Linked DNA regions of Homo sapiens: region 2 is reported to be linked to region 1. The links are microRNA targets in miRTarBase. Many come from high-throughput screens and were not tested one by one. Region 1 holds a microRNA gene; the other region holds the end of a gene's coding sequence.
The links. The annotated mature microRNA hsa-miR-218-5p reads UUGUGCUUGAUCUAACCAUGU and lies in region 1 at 4,817-4,837, shown strand. An mRNA with a match to its seed (bases 2 to 7 or 8) in the 3' UTR can be bound and repressed. Matches are read on the target gene's strand: a 7mer-m8 pairs with bases 2 to 8, a 7mer-A1 pairs with bases 2 to 7 and ends in A, and an 8mer does both.

Region 2: the mRNA of ZNF317 is a reported target of hsa-miR-218-5p. The part of its 3' UTR that is shown has no 7-base or 8-base seed match.

Annotation. Positions count from the first base shown.
Region 1 is chr4:20,523,483-20,531,614 of GRCh38, forward strand. MIR218-1 (microRNA 218-1) reads left to right here and starts at 4,793; the gene lies at 4,793-4,902. SLIT2 (slit guidance ligand 2) reads left to right here. Exons shown (of 37, transcript NM_004787.4): 13 at 278-421; 14 at 532-695; 15 at 1,667-1,690; 16 at 5,467-5,617. RefSeq lists a silencer at 508-695.
Region 2 is chr19:9,160,035-9,167,595 of GRCh38, reverse strand. It overlaps ZNF317 (zinc finger protein 317), which reads right to left. Exons shown (of 7, transcript NM_020933.5): 7 at 4,183-7,482. The coding sequence ends at 6,163. Among named protein-coding and RNA genes, the nearest start is that of OR7D2, 15 kb to the left of the region's middle. RefSeq lists an enhancer at 7,260-7,561.

The DNA of each region.
Region 1 (8,132 bases):
ATCCCACCTTTGTATCTTCCAGAGGAAATGGTTAATAATGTGTATTGAATACATGTATAAATACCACTAGATTTAGGTTCATTTGATCACATGACTTTTGTTATGTGGTAAAACCCCACATCTCTAGCCTCTAATTCCTAAATTATTAAAGTTAAAATGTTAGTGTTGAGGTGAAAAGAAATATATTTCTTGACTGGGTTTCCTTAAAAAGCACAAAATCTTGCAGGTGAGTTAATAAGATGCTACACTTTAATTCTACAACTATTTAATCAAACAGATTATTGAATGCCAACAAGATAAACTGCCTTCGGGTAGATGCTTTTCAGGATCTCCACAACTTGAACCTTCTCTCCCTATATGACAACAAGCTTCAGACCATCGCCAAGGGGACCTTTTCACCTCTTCGGGCCATTCAAACTATGTATGTATAAGTGATTTGGATCACTTTTGATGACATTGTTTCCTCTCTGAATGTAAGAGCTGAGTCCATTGCAAGTCATCTATAAAACTGTTCTGTATGTGTTTCCAAAGGCATTTGGCCCAGAACCCCTTTATTTGTGACTGCCATCTCAAGTGGCTAGCGGATTATCTCCATACCAACCCGATTGAGACCAGTGGTGCCCGTTGCACCAGCCCCCGCCGCCTGGCAAACAAAAGAATTGGACAGATCAAAAGCAAGAAATTCCGTTGTTCAGGTAATTTCTTCACGTGTTATTTCCCCTGTGACCAACAACAATGGTTACATGAGACCTAACAAAAGCAGCTGGCCTTCGGCTGATTAGTGAACACTGTAGAATCATATTTCTTTTTCTTCTGCCCATGAATAATAAAATAAAGAGGACTGTAGACCCAATTCAAATAATACTTCTATATGTAACATTTTAACACCATATACAGCAGAAGAAATAGGCAATTGACCAAGTTAAAAAGATGCCTAGATACTTCATAGTACCTTTCCAAAATTCAAACTTAACCAGAGCCTTATAGCTAACTCAGAATACCTTTAAAGTATGTTAAGTCTCATGTTTGTTGAATTGACCAGCCTCAAGTAATTAACTGTGTTTTCATTTCTTCAGAAAGTGAATTGAGACTTGGTTACATGATTTGTTTGGGCTCAGAAGTACAGGGGCGCCAGGAGGGACTCCAGATCCCTTGCTTCTTACTCTGAATGCACTTTCTCAGTTTGCATTCTCTTATTTTGCATACAACCGTGAGGATGCGTTTTTTCCAAAAGCTATTTTTAAAAATATTGTGGGAATATTGCATTTATTTGTAAAAAGCTAAATATGAATGCATTGTATTGATATTAAATGAAAGGCTGCCATCATTCAAATTTACTGTTTGCTTTGATCTAATATTTTCCTTTTTTATGATAGAATATTTTATGTCTTTTTGGTACTATGCTACCTAACTATTCCAGGCGTATTTCACATTCGGCAGTTAATTTCATACTAAAAAGCTAATATAAGAACCAAGCTGGTTATTGTCCATAATTATAGATGCATTTACTACTCACTGTACATTATTGTACTTCAGTCACAGCTGTGAATATACATTTTTCACTTAATTGCAGTAACTTTAGTCCATTCTTAATCTAATATAACTCATATCTCTGCTTGCTGACATTCAGGTGCATCTTCTATTTTTTGTCTCTTTTTTTATTTAGCTAAAGAACAGTATTTCATTCCAGGTAGGTTTTGCTCGGTAGTAGGACTAACTACAGACACCCTTTCCTCACCTTATAAAATATAGCTTCTAAAACTGATATGCATGCTTCTGAAAGTACAGTGGATACTCTATAGATAGATTGACTTATGCATATATCACTTGTAGCTGTTTCCTGAAATCCTGACCTTTGCATGCAGCTTCTGATGTTAAACATATATTATTAAACTCCACCTTTTCTTCTCTTTCTTTTACTTTGGCGCATTATCTAAAATTTCTCACAGTAGCTAAAATGTTTGAAGCTATGGCTTTCTACTTAAATCATTTTCTCTCCTTACATTGTATATCTGATCTTCCAACCTGTTTTTAAAATATAGCTAATTGAGCTGGTTTTAAAGACAGAGATCTTTCTGATGTCAAAGAGCTAGTTCTACATGAAATCAGTTACACACAGAATTTCATTTTCAATCATGAAAATTACTTTTTTATAGATTCTTATATTTAAAAACTGTACTTATTGCTTTACTTTTGCTTCACTGTTTATAGAAAAACAGCAACTCCCTGCTGAATTATATGCAGTTGTTTCTTATTTGTTTATGACTTTACATTCTTCTATATCCAGAATTACAATATAACTCCATAAAAAAGAATATTTATGTGTGATGTGAAAGCATCAGAAGTTCATGGGCACAAAATGCCTTGAATAATTTAGGCAGATGGATAAAATGTTTCTAAGAAAAGTAATCGCAATGTTTTACCACTTCAATCGTAACACTATCAAGACTGATGATTCTAGAACTAGCTCTTTAAAATACGTTTCTTTACTTATTTTTCCTTGCCTGCCAATTGTGTAAAATGCCTCTTGACTTGTTTGTTTTAAACCATTATGTTAAGTATCGATTGGCCACATTCACCGTCTCTTGGGTATATTCTAGACTATAAAAAATTTTAAGAGCTATAGATTAAAAGATATTTCTACAGCGTTAGTGTACAGAGTTAGTCTAACTTTCCATATTTTCTTAAGAAGAACTCTGGGTTTAGTCTCTATTTTAAGGAGATATTTGTTAGCTTGCCATTATTGAATTACAATTTGTATAATTTTATGGATTTAGTAGATTTGGTGATATGACTTATTTTGAGCTTGAATGATCAATAGCATTGTATATTATTATACTGGCTGCATAACAAGTAACATGTTGAAAAGAACAGTTGATTGGCCTTCATTGACAATGTTTAATATTAATTACTTTACCCAATTAAGTGGAAAGTAATCTGATAGCTATTATTTAACCAGAAAAAGCCATATTCTAAACACCAGACTACCTATAGAATAAAACATTAATATGATTTAAATCCTAAAATTATGGCAGTAATGTAATTGGTATCAAATTATTCAAACTATTTCATTTAAATATACTTAATTAATAATTGGTAAGTTTAATATTTCCAATTCACTAAATAAAGAACAAAAGTCAGGTTGTTTTCATATATTCTGATATAGTTTTTCCCTGTTACTGACAGCAGCCAAAATAGGATTTGGAAATTATCTTTTATATCAAATATCATGTCTTAAGTTTCAATTTATGATAATTTAATTTACATTCTTTAAACATGATAATTGTAGAAGCCAGGACTCAAAAGGATCATTTGGGCTTCCTCCCCTTTTTTCCAAAAATTTTAATTAAAATTTGAGTCCACCTAACAAGCCACCATAAAATAAGCATTATTACTGTTCCGTTGAATGCAGATTATTTGAATTGCAAGATATCCAGTGTACCTGTCACTTAGACTTTGTGCACTCTTATTTCATTTTGGAGTGAAGCATAAATCATAAGACACCAGATCCTCAGTAAATATCATGGCATTAACTGCCAAATGTAATGAAACGATTATATTTACCATCGCAAACTTCTTATGAGATTCTGATTCCATTTCCACTAAGACACATTATTTATAAGTTGAAAAGTTCATTAAAAAGTGTACATCACAACATAAGGATTAATCCAAATGTTGTAATGATTGTCCTTGAGGATCTCCATGATTAGTTTTTCATTCACTTTTACGTGTGTACCTCGCTACTACCATTTTATATGGCACTCTACATATTACAGTGATAAAAGAAAATCTGTCTTGCAGAGAGTTCATCTTTTTTTTTTTGGAGATGGAGTCTCGCTGTCTCCCAGGCTGGAGTGCAGTGGCATGATCTCGGCTCACTGCAAGTTCCGCCTCCCGAGTTCATGCCATTCTCCTGCCTCAGCCTCACCGAGTAGCTGGGACTACAGGCGCCCGCAACCATGCCCAGCTAATTTTTTGTATTTTTACTGGAGATGGGTTTTCACCCGTCAGGTGAAATGGTCTTGACTTCCTGACCTTGTGATCCGCCCGCCTTGGCCTCCCGAAGTGCTAGTATTACAGGCGTGAGCCACCACACCCGGCCTTGAGAGTTCATCTTTTAAAGGAATCAAGAACTTAATTTGCACTATGCATCTTTTATTACATTGGTTTTCTTGTGAGACCACCGTGCTTCAAAATATTATTTATAAAATTTTACAAAGCATGACAATTCCCATCACATCATGCTATTTTTTCAATAATTCCCATAATAAAGAAAGAAGGAAGAGAGCTTAGTTTTATAAATATGTATATTAATCTTAATTGGGATTACTCTTTCTTTCCTTCTTGGTGATCTTTACTTTTGCAGGAATTCACCATTTTGGCTGTAAGTAAAAGTGTCTGATCTGAAACATAATACCCTCCCTTTTCAATCCTGATGTACCTTCTTCTAGTCTTGGTCTTTGGCACCTTTTTTTCAAGAAGAAACCACAGATCTTTTGAGCTTCTCTGTTGTCCTTGTAGCTCACCTTCAACTTCTTCCTGGATGTTGTTCCCGAAAGCTGTTGTTTCCATTCTGCAGTTCTGAGGAATGGTGGAGGCACCTTTTCCATATAGCCCCTTCTTTGTGTTTCCAGGAAATCATCGGTAGTAATACTCTTACTGTGGTCATAAACATTCTGCGGGAAGAATGCATGTCATGTAAACAGTATTACGTTTCCAGAACGTCTGTAGCTTTTCTCCTCCTTCCCTCCATTTTCCTCTTGGTCTTACCTTTGGCCTAGTGGTTGGTGTAGTGATAATGTAGCGAGATTTTCTGTTGTGCTTGATCTAACCATGTGGTTGCGAGGTATGAGTAAAACATGGTTCCGTCAAGCACCATGGAACGTCACGCAGCTTTCTACAGCATGACAAGCTGCTGAGGCTTAAATCAGGATTTTCCTGTCTCTTTCTACAAAATCAAAATGAAAAAAGAGGGCTTTTTAGGCATCTCCGAGATTATGTGAGAGGGAGAGAATAGTAAAAAGTCCATAGAAAATTTAAAAGCCTGAGTATATCTATTTGCCTTGAAAGCCCTAATTTACAATGAGATATAGGATCATGTTTATTACTGGATATATTTTCAATTCTTGACTCCGAGAAAAAAAATAAACTTTTTAATAATTAATATCCATTGTGTGACTAGCTGTGAAGTAGGCTAGAATGACTCAGAATTGGATCAGCAGAAAGTACAGCTGTGAAAAGCTCAACTTTATTAATGTTTTCCTGTCATGTGAATCTGGTCACTCTTTTTTCCAGAAAATTCCAAGCCTTTCTTTTAACCTTTCTCCTGACATCCATTGACCAAAATACCCCAAGTTGTCTCCCTGCTACATAATCTATAGTTATCTTACTTTTTTCTTCCTACAAACTAATAAATTTTCTAACCTTTAGACTCAGTATCTTTTTTTTGGTTTGAATTCTCAATAGGTACAGAAGATTATCGATCAAAATTAAGTGGAGACTGCTTTGCGGATCTGGCTTGCCCTGAAAAGTGTCGCTGTGAAGGAACCACAGTAGATTGCTCTAATCAAAAGCTCAACAAAATCCCGGAGCACATTCCCCAGTACACTGCAGAGTTGTAAGTTCATCCCCCAACAAAATTCTGGTTGGGATGGAGGGAATGAAAGCATTAAAGCATAAGAATGTTTGTCTTGCCATTTTTATTATTAATAATTGCATTAATTTTAATTAATATGCATTACATTGGCATAACTCTATTTTGTACAAGAATATATTAGAGGCTACCTTCATTCATCTTTCTAGCCAACCATACGATTAAGTACAGAAACTAATTTATCTCTCAAAATTCAGTAAGCACTTCATACTAATAACAATGGTATTTATTTGATGCTTATTTATTGGGTATTATTTATTCCCAATTTGTTTTCTAAGTACTTAGTTTTTAACGTATTTAATTCTTATAGCAACTAAATAAAGTAGTTTGAGAGCCTCCATTTTCAATCTCTGTAAACTATCAATAGATTCAAGGAGTCTGTCTTACCTAATTTACTACTTCATTGACTTACGGGCAGAAGGATTCAGTGGTTATCAAGTATTAAAGTAGAAAGGATAGCTTTTTCTGAACAATGCAAGAAAAGCTGAAAAGGCAGAATATGATGGTATTTACACTTAACAGCCTTAACATAGGACCTTGCACATACTAAGTGCTAAGGTGTTTGTTGGAGCACTTACAGATTCTATGCCCATGCATGGTTTGCCTTTACTGACTTTATTTATAAGAAGAGGACCTTTAATGTTAGTGTTCTAACAATTCAGGGAAAAAACTAGCAAAACCTCATCATTCTCTAAACATCTTAGCCATGTTTATATATAGCACCATCTGGTATTTGTCATTTACTGCTTTGCAAAGTTCGTTGTCTGTTTGTTTGTATATAATCCTTCCATCTTTAACTAGATTATAGCTCCTTGATGACAGGGATTGTGTGTTATTGTTTATCTCTCACTGTGCCTATACTCATGCCTGTACTTAATTAATTTTTAGCAATTTGAATAACTAAAAATAAAGTAATGCCTTTCAAAGAGTTGACAGAAACCCACTATCTTGTAGTTATAGTGATTTTTTTTTTTTTACTCCTATTAGTTGATGAAGCTATTTCACAGCTCCAGGAATTTTAGAAATGCATGGAGTCCATGCAACCAAGGCCCTGAACTTTATTTTTTATAGACATATAGGGATTTATGCTTATTACCTATAATACTACAAACAAGTGATACCTTCCAGCACAATAGTACTTTTTTTTTTTTTGAGACAGAGTCTCACTATCTCACCCAGGCAGGAGTGCAGTGGCACAATCACAGCTCCCTGTAGCCTTGGCCTCCTGGGCGCAAGGGATCCTCCCACCTCAGTCCCCCACCCCCATCTCCCCAAGAAGCTGGGACCTCAGGCATGCACCACCACACCCAGCTAATTTTGTACTTTTTGTAGAGATGGGATTTTGCCCTGTTGTCCAGGCTGGTCTTGAACTCCTGAGCTCAAGCAATCCTCCTGCCTCTGCCTCTCAAAGTGCCAGGGTTACAGGCATGAGACACTGCCCCTGGCCTAGCACTTTAAATAAGTTTGTTTGTCATGGAGGAATTATAGTGGAAACTAGCCTCCAATTTAGACTTCAGCAAATGTGTGTAATGTAAGAGATTTATAATTTTTTTAATTATATAATAAAATCAGTACTGAGAATAAAATATTTGCAAGTCATGTATCTAATAAGGCACATAATTCAGAATATATACAGAACTCTTATAATTTAGATTAAAAGGTATTTTACTCAGCTAATGAATGGTTAAATTATTCATATTGACCTTTCTCCAAAGAACATATACAAATGTCCAATAAACACATGAAAAACTGCTCAATATCATTAGTTATTAGGGACATTCCAATCAAAACCACAATGAGATACCATTTTAGACCCACTGGAATGGCTAAAAAAAAAAAACAAAAACAAAAAGGGAGAGTAACATAGTGGAAGAAATTGAAACCCTCATACATTGCTGGTCTGAATGTAAAGCTTCTATGGAAATCTTTTTTGCTATTTCTCAAAGAGTTAATCACGATTTACCATGTGATCCAGCAATGCCCCTCCTATGTATATGTCCAAAAAACGACAACATATATCCAGGCAGAAACGTGCACACCATGTTCATAGCAGCATTATTTATAGCCATCAAAGAATGGAAGCAACACAAATGCCTCCTAACTGATAAATGGATAAACAAATGTGTCATGCCTGTGTAATGAAATATCATTCAGTCTTAAAAAATAATGAAGCACTGCCATATGCTACAACAGGAATAAGACATTACACAAAGCAAAAGAAGCCAGACAGAAAAGGCTACATCTTACATGATTCCGTTTATGCAAAATGCCCAGACTAGGAAAATTAGTAAAAGCAAAAAGTAACCTAGTGGTTGCCAAGGACTGTGGGGGAACAGCCACCAGGAGTGACTGGTAGTAAGTATGGGGTTTCTTTTGGGGGTAATGAAAATGTTCTGGAATTAGATAGCAAAGATGGTTCCACAACTGAATTGTATGACTTTTAAAGGGTAAATGTTCTGGCATGTGGTTTGCATTCTAA
Region 2 (7,561 bases), not on the chromosome of region 1:
TTTTGTATTTTTAGTAGAAATGAGGTTTCACTATGTTGGTCAGGCTGATCTCGAACTCTTGGCCTCGTGATCCTCCCTCCTTGGCCTCCCAAAGTGCTGGGATTACAGACATGAGCCACTGCACCCGTCCCAGTTACTGCATCTTGAAGAAATCAGGCTTGGGGATGGGAGCAGGAAAACACATCACCCTTTTCAGTTATTACACAAAGCTGTGCACAGCAAGGCTTATTACCACTACACCTACCTCTCCCTTCATTCCTCCCTGGGTGGCCAGGGCAGGCCAGGAGGCATTGTGTTATTGGCTTAGGGGACCACCACATTCAGAGCAAATTCAAGCTACAACAGGGAGAAGCACCTGTTTTCCTAAGGACCTCAGACATCTGGATTTTAAGGAGTCACTAAATGGATTCCACAGATGAAGAGGACAGAAGAGTTAGTGAACTTTAAGATATATCAGTAGAAGTCATACAAACTGGAAAACAAACACATTAGAAAAATGAAACAGGAACTTCAGAGTCCTGTGGCGCAGCTGGAGTCCCAAAAGGAGAAAATGAGGAAGAAAACAACTTCGGAAAATTCCTGAGAATTGAAAGCAGGAACTCACACAGACACTTGCATCCAATGTCCATATTGTAGGGGCAACAAGATTTCACCTTCATCATCTTAGGATCCTTGCTGGGCCTGATAATTACACCGACATACGATTAGGTTAACAAGATTAAAGCATACACATGTATTTGTTTAATGAAAGTTTTATGTGGCATGGGGTTCCTCATAAGGAAACAAGCCAGAAAAGCAGTTAAGAGCCAAACACTTATAAACTGAATTGGACAGACAAGTAAACTGCGCTAATGGGATAAAACCAAGGGTGTGGGCTAGGGTGGTTAATCAGGTAGAGAAGTGGCTCAGAAGCCGTAGTGTAATGAGGTTGGTTTGGATAGATCTCCTTTGCCTCAACTTTGCATCCTTCATGCTAAGAATGCTGTCTTCAGGCTGGGCGCAGTGGCTCACACCTGTAATCCCAACACTTTGGGAGGCTGAGGCGGGCATATCACCTGAGGTCAGGAGTTCAAGACCAGCCTGACCAACATGGTAAAACTCCGTTTCTACTAAAAATACAAAAATTAGCCGGGCATGGTGGCAGGCTACTCGGCGAGTACCCAGCTACTTTGGAGGCTGAGGCAGGATAATTGCTTGAATCCAGGAGGCAGAGGTTGCAGTGAGCCCAGATCGCGCCACTGCACTCCAGCCTGGGCAACAGAGCAAGACTGCATCTCAAGAAAAAAGAAAAAAAAATCATCAATATCAGTATGATTCACAATAGCCAAGAGGTAGAAACAGCCCAAATGTTCATCAATAGATGAATGAATAAAACGTGACACATACATGCAACAGAATTTATTAAGCCATAAAAGGGAATGAAATTCTGATACATGCTACAACATGGATAAGCCTTGAAAACATTACTTTTAATGAAATAAGGCAGACGCACACAAAACAACGTATTTTATTATTCTACTTCTGACAAAATTCATGGACACTACCTACAAGTTACCAGGGGCTGAAGATAGAAGTGTTGAGGAGTGATTGCTTAATGGGTACATAATTTTTTGGAATGAAGAGAAAGATCTGAAAATGGATAGTGGTGGTAGCCAATATTGTCAATGTACTTAATGCCACCGAACAGTACACCTAAAAAATGATTAAAATGGGGCTGTGCGCGGTGGCTCACACATGTAATCCTAGCACTTTGGGAGGCCGAGGCAGGTGGATCATGAGGTCAAGAGATCAAGACCATCCTGGCCAACATGGTGAAACTCCATTTCTACTAAAAATACAAATATTAGCTGGGCATGGTGGTGCGCACCTATAGTCCCAGCTACTCAGGAGGCTGAGGCAGGAGAATTGCTTGAACCCAGGATGTGGAGGTTGCAGTGAGCCAAGATTGCACCACTGGACTCCAGCTTGGGCAACAGAACGAGACTCTGCCTCAAAAAACAAAAACAAACAAACAAAAAAACCCAGTGAATTTCATGTTATGTTTATTTTACCACAATTAAAAAATTATGAAGAAATAATGGCCAAATACTTCCTTGTGAAAGACAGTGACTCACGTATCTAAGAATCTGAAGGATCCCCAAGCAGAGTAAATGCACAGGAAACTGCACCAAGACACAGAGTCAAACTGTTGAAAACCCAAGATAATTATCTGAAGAGGAGCCAGTGACAAGCAACACATTACTTACATTACTTACAGGGGAATAATGTTAAGAATAACGCTAACTTTTAGTCAGCAACAATGGAGGCCAGAAGACAAAGAAATGACCCCTTTAAAGCATATCCAGACCAGGCGCGGTGGCTCACACCTGTAATCCCAGCACCTTGGGAGGCTGAGGCAGGCAGATCACCTGAGGTCAGGAGTTCAAGACCAGCCTGGCTAACGTGATGGAACCTCAACTTTACTAAAAATACAAAAATTTGCCAGGCATGGTGGTGCAAACCTATAATCCCAGCTACTCAGGTGGCTAAGGCACAAGATCGTTTGAACCTGGGAGGTGGAGGTTGTAGTGAGCTGAGATCATGCCACTGCACTCCAGCCTGGGCGACACTCTGTCTCAAAAAATAAATTAAAATAAAATAAAATAACATATTCAGCCAAAGTATCTCCAAAAACTAAGGTGAGGAGACTTCCAGGTAACTAAAAACAATGGCCAGTGAGTGGTAAGCAACCTCCCCAAATCCCCTTTCAAATGCTGTGAAGTAACTCCACACCTATGAATCTTCTACACAAAACTATACCTTCAACACTGCCTTTAAGACATAGAGAATGCCAAAATTGCAACATAACTATGAGTAAAATGAGAAAAAGCATTAAATCTTAGCACCACGGTCCCACACATGCCCACCCCAAGGCTCTGTTAGGTAAACTGCAAGAAAGAGGGATAGCTGGTGGGGGGGCCTGAGACAGAGCTGGAGCAAGACCCTCAGAATCATCTACCCTTAATTTGAAAATGCAAAAAAACAAAACAGAATCAAAACCCTGGCCAATCATAGGAGAACTGCAGGAAACAGACTTAAAACTATGTGTCATTTATAGGCCGGAGCAACTGTGTCTCACACTGCTAATAAAGACATACCTGAGACTGCCTAATTCATAAAGAGGTTTAATGGACTCATAGTTCCACATGGCTGGGGAGGCCTCACAATCATGGTGGAAGGTGAATGAGGAGTGCTGTCTGAATAGCCCACCCCTTAATTTGCATGTAATTAAAACTGGGTATAAATACTGCTAGCCAACAGCCTATATGCTGCTACCCTGGGTATACTGCCTATGAGTCAGCCCTGCTCCACAAGGGGCAGCCACTCTGCTGTGCCCTGCTGCTTCAATAAACCCAATTTCTTTTACTGCTGGCTGCCTCTTGAATTCTTTCCTGAGCAAAGCCAAGAACCCTCCTGGGCTAACCCCCAGTTTGGGGGCTCATCTGCCCTACATCATCAGCAGAAAAATAGAGACTCAAAGAATCAGAAGGAAAGATCAGAAATCAAAGCCACCATAAAGAAACGGAAGAATGCCTTTGATAGGCTAATCAGTCATCTGAACATGGCCGGGCGCGGTGGCTCACGCCTGTAATCCCAGCACTTTGGGAGGCCAAGGTGGGCGGATCATGAGGTCAGGCCATCAAGACCATCCTGTCTCACACGGTGAAACCCCATCTCTACTAAAAATACAAAAAAATATTAGCCGGGTGTGGTGGCGGGCACCTGTAGTCCCAGCTACTCAGGAGGCTGAGGCAGGAGAATGGCATGAACTTGGGAGGCAGAGCTTGCAGTGAGCCGAGATCGCGCCATTGCACTCCAGCCTGGGTGACAGAGCAAGACTCTGTCTCAAAAAACAAACAAACAAAAAAAAAAAAACAAAAAAAAACCACACAACTGACCAATGACCAGGTGTATGGGCTCCAGGCAGCATCCAGCTGGGTGTAGAAACCCCCTCCCACCAATAAACAAATGAAATAGAAAAACAAGCTGGGTGTGGTGGCACATGCCTGTATTCTCAGCTACTTGGGAGACTGAGGCAGGAAGATTGTTTGAGCCCAGGAGTTCGAATCTAGCCTAGGCAACATAGGGAGACCCCCATCTTAAAATAAATAAATTTAAAAGAAAAACAATGAAATATCCATAGCAGCTTAAACCAATAATCAGTTTTATTTTTTCTCATGTGATAGAAGTCTGGAAGTCCAGGGCTGCTGCAGACACTCAAAGAGGCCACAGGGGAGGCCAGGGTCGCTGTGAGCTTTCTGCAGTCACTTCCTTAGACTGTGGTTTTCATATGCACGGTCGTTAAGGTGGATCTTCCAATACTAGGTACTGGATCTCTTTGCAAGGTGAAAAGTAAAGCAAAGAACAAAACATACAGGGAGGAATTCATGTTTAAGAACGATCCCCATTCAAGAGCTTTCTCAGAAGCCCATGTGGTGACATCTGCTGATCTGTCAGTGGCCAGGGCTGTGAGACATGGATGGTACCAGCTGCAAGAAAACCTGTAAGAGATTTTTTAAAATTTAGATTAGCACACCTTACTAATCTGACAGAACCTGGATTCTCTTGATATTGGAAGAAGATGAGAGTGGATACCGGGGAAGTCACTAGAAGTATCTGTCACTCTTGGCTGGACAGCAGGCTGCAAACATATTACCACTTGATGGAGGCATCATGCTCTGGTCGCAATCCGTGTGCATCAGGTACCAGTAACAAAGTGGTACTGAGAAATATCCTCATGTCACATAGATCTCAATATGCCATTGGTCAAGGAGGTTGTCCAGAAGGAAATTAGGACGTTATCAAGGATGAAGCTATAGTAAAAATACTATAAACAAACCTTTCTTGATGAGGCTTAAGGGTTATTTAGAGGAGTATAACCTTAAAAATAAAGATGAAAAATTTATGAACGGGGCTCTGTTTTCATGATGAGAGAGTACGTGCAGTCCCGTATTCACCGGAAAATCTCGTTGGGGCTTCTCTCGGGGGGTCTGTTTCCGTGATGAAAGAGTAAGTGCAATCCCGTATTCACCGGAAAATCTCGCTGGGGCTTCTCTCCGTGAGAATATTCACATGCTCAAGTGAGGGGACCATGGCTGGAATCATTTCCACATAGGAATTATCAGCACTAATTGTATTTTAAAAGTTTTGTAAAAGAAATTTCTCCTAGCGTAAGTGCTCACAAGATTCATAAAAATGGAGGAATTGCTGCAGGCAGTAATTGAGGAATGACTGCATGATTATTTTCAACCTCAGCAACAGTGACGTTTGGGGGCACTAACTCTTCGTTGTGGGGGGCTCCTGTGTGCTGGAGCCGACTTAGCAGCATCTCTGATGTCTTCTTATTACAAGTCAGGAGTATCTTCCCCCCATTCTAACTACCAAAAATGTCTCTAGACATTGCCAAATGACGCCTAGACAGCCAAATCGTCGCCCGACTGAGAACCCGTGCTGTAGACCAAGGGTCGGCCAAGTTTTTCTGGAAAGGGGCAGATGACAGGAAGTATTTCAGACTTCATTGGCCACAAATTTTCTCCATCAAACATTCTTCTTCCTTAAAGATGGAACCACTATTGTTAGCTGGCAAGCCATACAAAGACAAGCAGCTGGCCGTGGTTTGCGGCCCATTCATGACCTTCCACGTTCCTTACTTCACTGATTTCTCTCTTTAGTGTGATTTCCGTCATGAGGAATCAAGTGAGACTAGGAAGGGTTTCCCCAGCCACTGTGTTTACAGAGATGCTCCCTAGTGTGCTCATTATTACTCATGGGCCCAGAAGGCTAGAAGTGGTCTGAAGTCATTTTGACATTAAATGCCACGGCTTGGATTTTGACATTAAATGCCAAGCTGCCATTAAGTCCTCCTGTGTTTGTTAAGAGCTGAATGTACCCTGAAGGCTTCTCCATGCTACAGACGTACATTTTCACCCCCGGCGTGAGTTCTCACAAACCTCCTATGGGATGAGAACGCCTCGTCTTCCCAGTTTTTACAGGAACTGGACTTCTCCCAAGTTCCGTGGATTCTTTTGCACCCAGTAAGGTGCGAGCTCACAGAGGCTTCCTCTTACACCCACGAGGTCTGTTTCCGGTCTGAATCATCCTGTGTCTCTAAAGCAGGCGCGCTCACTGGAGCCTTTTCCACACGGATGACACAAAGAGCTTCTCTCCCCGGTGAGTTTTCACGTGGCTCCTGAGGGATGAGTGGTCGCTGAAGGCTTTCCCGCAGACAAGGCATTCGTAGGGCTTCTCCCCGGTGTGGATCCGCCTGTGCACATTCAGGTTGGAGCCTATGCTGAAGGCCTTCCCACAGTGATCGCATTCGTACGGTTTCTCCCCCGTGTGGCTTCGCATGTGCGTCTTCAGCGTTGACTGGTTCCTGAAGGCCTTGCCACACTGCCTACACTCAACTCGTTTCTTTACAAGGTGAACGCTCATGTGCCTCCGCCGGGATAAATAGTCACCGAAGACTTTCCCGCAGGCGGCGCATTCGTAGCGTCTCTCTTGCGTGTGTATCTTCCTGTGTGCGGTGAGGTTTGAACTCGCGCTGAAAGCTTTCCCGCAGAGATCGCACCCGTATGGTTTCTCTCCAGTGTGAGAGTTCATGTGAGTCTTAAGGATGGACTGGTTTCGGAAGGTCTTCCCGCACTGCCGACATTCCACGGGTTTCTTGACGATGTGAATCCTCATGTGTTTCCTCCGGGACACGAGATCGCCAAAGGATTTCCCGCATTCTTTACATTCGTAGGTCTTCTCCACCATGTGGTTCTTCTTGTGCAAATTAAAGTTGGACTTCCAGCGGAAGGCTTTGCCGCACTGCGTGCACGCGTAGGGCTTCTCCCCCGTGTGATTCCTCACGTGCTCTTTGAGGTGGGAGGGGTGCTGGAAAGCTTTCCCACAGTCGTGACACTCGTAGGGCCTCTCTCCGGTGTGCGTTCTCTTGTGTGCGATGAGGTGGCAGCTCCGGCCGTAAGCCTTCCCGCACTGATCACACTTGTAAGGCCTCTCGCCAGTGTGAACTCGCATGTGGATTTTCAGGGCCGAGAGGGTCCGGAATGCATTTCCACACTGACTGCAGTCAAAGGGCTTCTCTTTGAGGTGAGTTCTTGCGTGGCTCCTAAGGGCTGAAGGGTCGTTGAAGGCTTTCCCGCAGTCGCTGCACTCGTAAGGCTTCTCCCCGGTGTGGATTCTCCTGTGCCGTGTGAGGGACGCGCTCGTGGTGAAGGCTTTTTGGCACTGATGACATTCATGCATTTTTCTCCCGTCGTACATGCTCATGTGCTGAGTGAGGTGCGGCCTGCCCTTGAACGCTACCCCATAGTCGCGGCGGTGATAGGGCCTCTTGCCAGCGTGCCTTCCCATTGGCTGAGTGAGATGAGGGTCCATGCCAAAGACTTCGAACAAGTGAGCGTATTCAGTGGACTTCTCTCCAAGACCGGCTCTTTCCTGTTGGTTAAGACGTAAGTGCTGACAAAGGCAATTCTCATATTCATTGCAACCCTAAGCGTCATCCCCACATACACTG